Linked DNA regions of Homo sapiens: region 2 is linked to region 1. Evidence: fine-mapped expression QTL. Tissue or cell type: testis. Region 1 holds a variant in brackets; the other region holds the start of a gene. All regions are shown on one strand. Distances are from middle to middle.

Region 1 (2,696 bases):
GCTGCAGACACCTCAAATACATGGCCTCATGCCATTCCTTTATTTGTTGTCATTTATCAAAGTAACTGGACTGATTTCCATATCTTTACACCTGGCCTAAATTGCCTGTCCCTTCAAGATTCTGTAAATGGTGCTAGACTCCTCATTTTCAACTATTAATAATCTGAATGTGTAAGTACAGTATGTATGATTTTCAAAGTTCTATTAAGGTATTGCACATTTCTACAAAAACATTTTAGAATTCAATGGCAAATATTGCTGTCTCTCAATTTCTCTCTTTCTATATAGGTTTATCTGTTAGATAAAAACTCTCTCTCTCTCTGTCTCTCTCTCTCTCTCTCTCTATCCATCTATCTATCTTGCAAAGCATAAAGGCAAAAGTAAATAATAATTCATATAATTATCTAAGTGAGCCCAGGGAAAATATTAATTCCTAACAATCATGTGAATACTCTTTGTCTTATAGCCTCACCATTTTATTTTTATATTAGAATCAAAGCATCTATTTGATTTGCAAAATGGTAAAAAGCTTATTCTTAATCCATCTTAATTATCTTTTCTTCCCTCTAGATAACTTCAGCAGCTCAGATTCAGTTAATGGATGGAGTAATAAATCAGTGGTTACTGAATTCAATTTGTTGGGGCTGTCTAGCTCTTGGGAACTCCAAGTCTTCTTTTTCTTTATCTTCTCTGTGTTTTATGGAGCTGCAGTGTTGGGAAACATCCTTATCATCATCACAGTAATTATAGACTCTCATTTGCATTCCCCAATGTACTTTCTTCTTAGCAATCTCTCTTCCATCGATGTGTGTCAGGCTACATTTGCCACTCCCAAGATGATTGCAGACTTCCTCAACGAACACAAGACCACCACTTTCCAGGGATGCATGTCACAAATCTTTTTCTTGCATGTTTTTGGGGGTAGTGAGATGGTGCTTCTTGTTGCCATGGCCTATGATAGATACATTGCTATATGCAAACCTCTGCACTACATGACCATCATGAACCGGAGGGTGTGAACTGTTCTGGTGGGGGTTTCCTGGGCCATTGGCATCTCACACTCAGCCACCCACCTGGCATTCAAAGTCAATCTGCCTTTCTGTGGACCCAACAGGGTAGACAATTTTTTCTGTGACCTCCTCCTAGTGATCAAGCTTGCCTGCTTAGACACCTATGGTTTTGAGATACTGGTGCTCACTAACAGTGGTCTGCTCTCACTTATGTGTTTCCTCCTTTTGCTCATTTCTGACACTATCATCCTTGCTACTGTGCATCGCCAAGCCTCTGATGGGATGTCCAAGGCCCTTTCCACTCTGTCTGCCCACATTACTGTTGTGCTTCTCTTCTTTGGCCCATTAATATTCATCTATATTTGGCCCTTTGAAAGCTTCCCAATTGATAAATTTATCTCTGTGTTTTTTTACTGTCTTCACTCCTCTCCTTAACCCCATGATTTATACTCTGAGGAATAAAGATATAAAGGAAGCCATGAGGAAGCTAAGGAGATGACATGTGGGTTCCAAGCAGG[GT/G]TTTTAGACAACTACAAAGAAGTAATACAAATTCCTACTTTTGGGCTTTGAAATTAACATATGTGATTATTATTATTGTGTTTGTATCACAAATAGTTTTTTTACTAGACTAAATTAGAGGGCCTGAATATGGTGATCTGGAGTTGGCAAACACAGTGCAGAATCTTATGATGCCAGTTCCTATATTCTGTGTCTCACATCATCCTCCCTAAAGCTGCATCTACAAGTATTAAAACCCATAAGCAGTTTTTCCTCTTAAACAGGCACCATAAAAAATTATCTCTGAGAGGTAGAGGTAAGAGGATCACTCAAGCCCAGGAGGTCGAGGCTGCAGTGAGCCGAGATTGTGCCACTGTACTCCAGCCTGGGCAACACAGTGAGACCCTGTCAAAAAAAAATCTCTTGCAACATTTAAAAATCAGCTCTATATTAAAGAAGATTAGCTAGTTCATGTGATTCACTCTGGGTAACATAGAGAATAATTTAGCATTATTTGAGTTAAAACAGAATTTGCTTTGAAATAAAAGGCGATATGAAGATTCTAAAAAGTGCTGCTTTACCTCATCAGTTACAGTTCATAATTATTCTGGCTAATACCTTATTGTTATAAAGGTAAAATTTTATATTCACAAATAAGGCATTAATGCTTATCAAACATGTCTTTTGTCATACTTATTATTTGTGCTAGAATTTAAATATATAAAATGCTACAGTATCAATTACAGGACTATAAATATAACCAAGTTCATAGTTAAAATTACAAGACTACTCTTACACTCTCTGGAAGAAAGAGCAATTACAAACCTCATTATATCACTAATAATAACCTGTCATCAATTGACAATGACTGCAAGGTATCTGAATAGCCAGTGATTTTCTTTAGTTAATTTCATTTGGGAGTGTAATTTTCAAAGTAGTTGCAGAAAATATATATATTGCTAATTAGAAAATATATCACATGCTTCTCTTCTTCTCAAACTTTAATTGAAACTTCAGAAATTGCTCATCAAACGTTGGAAAGAATAAGAGAAAGAGGGTCATCGCATGATTGATTCAGTCTTTTATCAGCCACAGAATCTGGCACTGTCATCACTGCACCATATAATTCGAGCTTGAAGAGTTTATTCTGTTTATGATAGCTTTCAATTCAAACTTGTAATTTTTGAA
Region 2 (2,696 bases), 26 kb before region 1:
GCAATCAAAAGAAATGATTTCTAATCATCCTGAGCAAAATGGAATTATTAGGAGGATTTGGCATTATCTGCATATTTGATAGTACATTTAGAGAAGCAGCCTCATAAAATGAGCAGAACCATTAGAAGCCAGACAGCACGAAAAACAGTCAAGATTATGCTTGTCTGGTAAAAACAAATGCTTGTTGACACTGGGTCTTCCCTGAATCATTGCTGCTGAAATCTAACATTATTTTACTATTGTGATAGTCCCTTAACTGTCTGTTTGTCATTGTATATCTCCCTTAAGATGCTAAATTAGGCTTTATGCTTTTGAATTTTTCTTTGTAGTCTGGATATTTTAAAACTTTAATTCATAAGTGTGTCCATTGATTTGGTTTATAAAAGTTCGAACATAATTTTACAATCTTTAACTTTTTTTCCCTCAACATTATGTTTTTAACCATACATATTCATGTACAAAATATTATTTAACAATTTTAATTATTGAATGTATTTCATCACACTAAAATATTATATTTCCCCACTCTCAAATTTATATATATATATGTACTTAGGTTTTTTCCAGTATCTCTCCTTCAGCCAGTGCTGCAATATGTGCCATTGTGCTCAAATGCTTATATATGTGAATGTTTTACTAAGGTGTACACATGCACACAGGATAGATAGGAAGATAGAAACACTAAGTAATAGGGAATCTTACCTTCAATTTTTTTACTTAAAGATGACCACTTGAAACTTACATCAGAACCTGTGGAGATCTAGAAAACTTATATAAAATATAGTTGAAAAAGACTGTTGATGTATTTTGGGAAAGAAATTTATATAGGGAATAAATGAGAGCCTCTTTAAATATTTGAAGAAACATAATACTGAAGTGCTAATAGATTTACTCTTTAAATTACAAATGGTAGAAACAGTGGAGCACAGACTGAACTGTCTTATGAAGCAGTGGGCTCCTTGTGATTGGAGGAAACACCCTGAGGCGAGGTGATAATTTTTAAGATTGTGTGATTGTTTTATTAACAGAGAGTTAGGAGTTGAATACCTGAATACTTCCTTTGCTGACTGATACTCAGTTAAAATCAAGTAATCTTTTGCTTTCATATGTATACACTAGTTGGCGAACAAACAAACAAACCTTTTTTTCTTTTCCATTTCTGGAAAATTATTTTGTAAAACATAATTACTCCCACTGGAAAGTGACCTCAGATCTCTAAAGGGTGTTTTCTTGCTTCACCAATGAAATCAGTTTTCTAGAATGAGGTTGAAAGGCTTTATATTGTATTGCCTTAAGTTATTGTAATTGCTCGGTTGAGTGCAAGGTGATCAGAGCCCTCACTACATCAGGACAGGACCTGAGGACCTGAGAGGCTTCCTTCCATACGGCATAGTGTAGGGAACCAAGTTAAAATGCATCAAGTTAAGATTATATTACAAATATTTTCAGTATGAAGACTCATAGCAGAAAGTGGGAAATGGAAACAAACCAGAGGACACCAAACTGGGAAAATAAGGAAGAAGTGAAAGACTTGGACAACTTTTTCAAAGTGTAAGTATTATACATTCATTGTGAACATATTGTTGCACTGGAGAAATAATTAATGAGATCTCTTATAGATGCAAAAACAGCAACTAGAAGATAGCAAAGTGGAAGTTATTGCTGTCTCAGACAAATTGAAAACTCCCTCTGGAAGAAGAATATTCCTGTTCTCCACTTCTCTGTCTATATCATTCTTCCACTGCACTGCTTCTGGGCAACCCTGGTAAGAAGAGGATCAGAATCTGATAAACAGAGGAACATATGTTACAACCATTATCTGTCCCTTCTCTGACCCATTTATGCTTTCTGTTCAGTGACTCTGTAGCCATTAGTTTAACAAATGTTTATTGACTACCAAAATTTGCCTCAAATGAAGAAAAGTGTAGCTATACACAGTAGAGTAATGGTCAGTAGTATATCCTTTATTGTTTGCTTCTAGGCTTATAGGTAATCAAGTATTATACATTAAAATAAAAACAAGAAAAAATTATTCATGCTTATGATTTCAGAGTTCCATTGACACATTGTATAGTAGATATTAATGCAACAGCAACCCTTTCATATCCAACTTGGCTTTACACCAAGAATAGGGAAATTTTCTTATGGTGTATTTTGGGATCTGAAAACACTCCTATCTCTGAGGTATAGTGGCAATGACAGAATGAATGATTCAATAATGAAGAAGCTTCTGGGTGCTCTGTGGACTGCTGAAGGAATGCTAACTTTTATAAACTCCATGTGTTTCCATAACTGCCTCTGCACTTAGAATTTTAGAGATGAAACTAGCTTTAGAGATAATCCAGTTCTATCTTTTAAGTTCAGTCACACAGCCAGCAAGTAGCAAATGTTATTTGTCTATACTATTGGGTAACTACCTTAATTATTAAGAAGAAAATGAGATATAATGTTGAACCTGATCTGTTCTACTTGCATTTAAAAAATCATAGGAAGTTAGTTTGGAGAGGAATTTCTAGTTGTTTCCTATATTTTGAAAAATTAAGACTAAAAACCTTATCATTTATTAGATATTGAAAAGATATAATTTGTGGGAAATTTGGATATTTTCAAAAGTATATTTTTCAAAGATAAGATGATTTTTGAAAAAGGAATAATTCCACTAACATTATTTAACAATTTTTTGTTAATCATGTTTC

Direction of the effects. Positions count from the first base shown, and alleles are read on the strand shown. Sizes are in standard deviations (SD) of each study's normalised expression.
For the expression in testis of the gene that starts at base 1,323 in region 2, G is the high allele of the variant in region 1 and GT is the other (moderate effect, 0.52 SD a copy in GTEx).

Evidence for each region. PIP is the estimated chance that this variant, and not a neighbour inherited with it, causes the effect. A credible set is the group of variants that fine-mapping cannot tell apart.
Region 2: OR4K1 starts here. The variant in region 1 is the best candidate, but not a certain one, in a credible set for the expression of OR4K1 in testis (GTEx, PIP 0.76).

What each region holds. Positions count from the first base shown.
Region 1 is chr14:19,956,004-19,958,699 of GRCh38, forward strand. It overlaps the pseudogene OR4K16P. Among named protein-coding and RNA genes, the nearest start is that of OR4K15, 18 kb to the right of the region's middle. The variant GT/G (reference allele first, on the strand shown) is at 1,529.
Region 2 is chr14:19,929,595-19,932,290 of GRCh38, forward strand. It overlaps OR4K1 (olfactory receptor family 4 subfamily K member 1), which reads left to right and starts at 1,323. Exons shown (of 2, transcript NM_001004063.3): 1 at 1,323-1,551. All of the region lies in intron 2 of LOC124903278 (a long non-coding RNA gene), which reads right to left.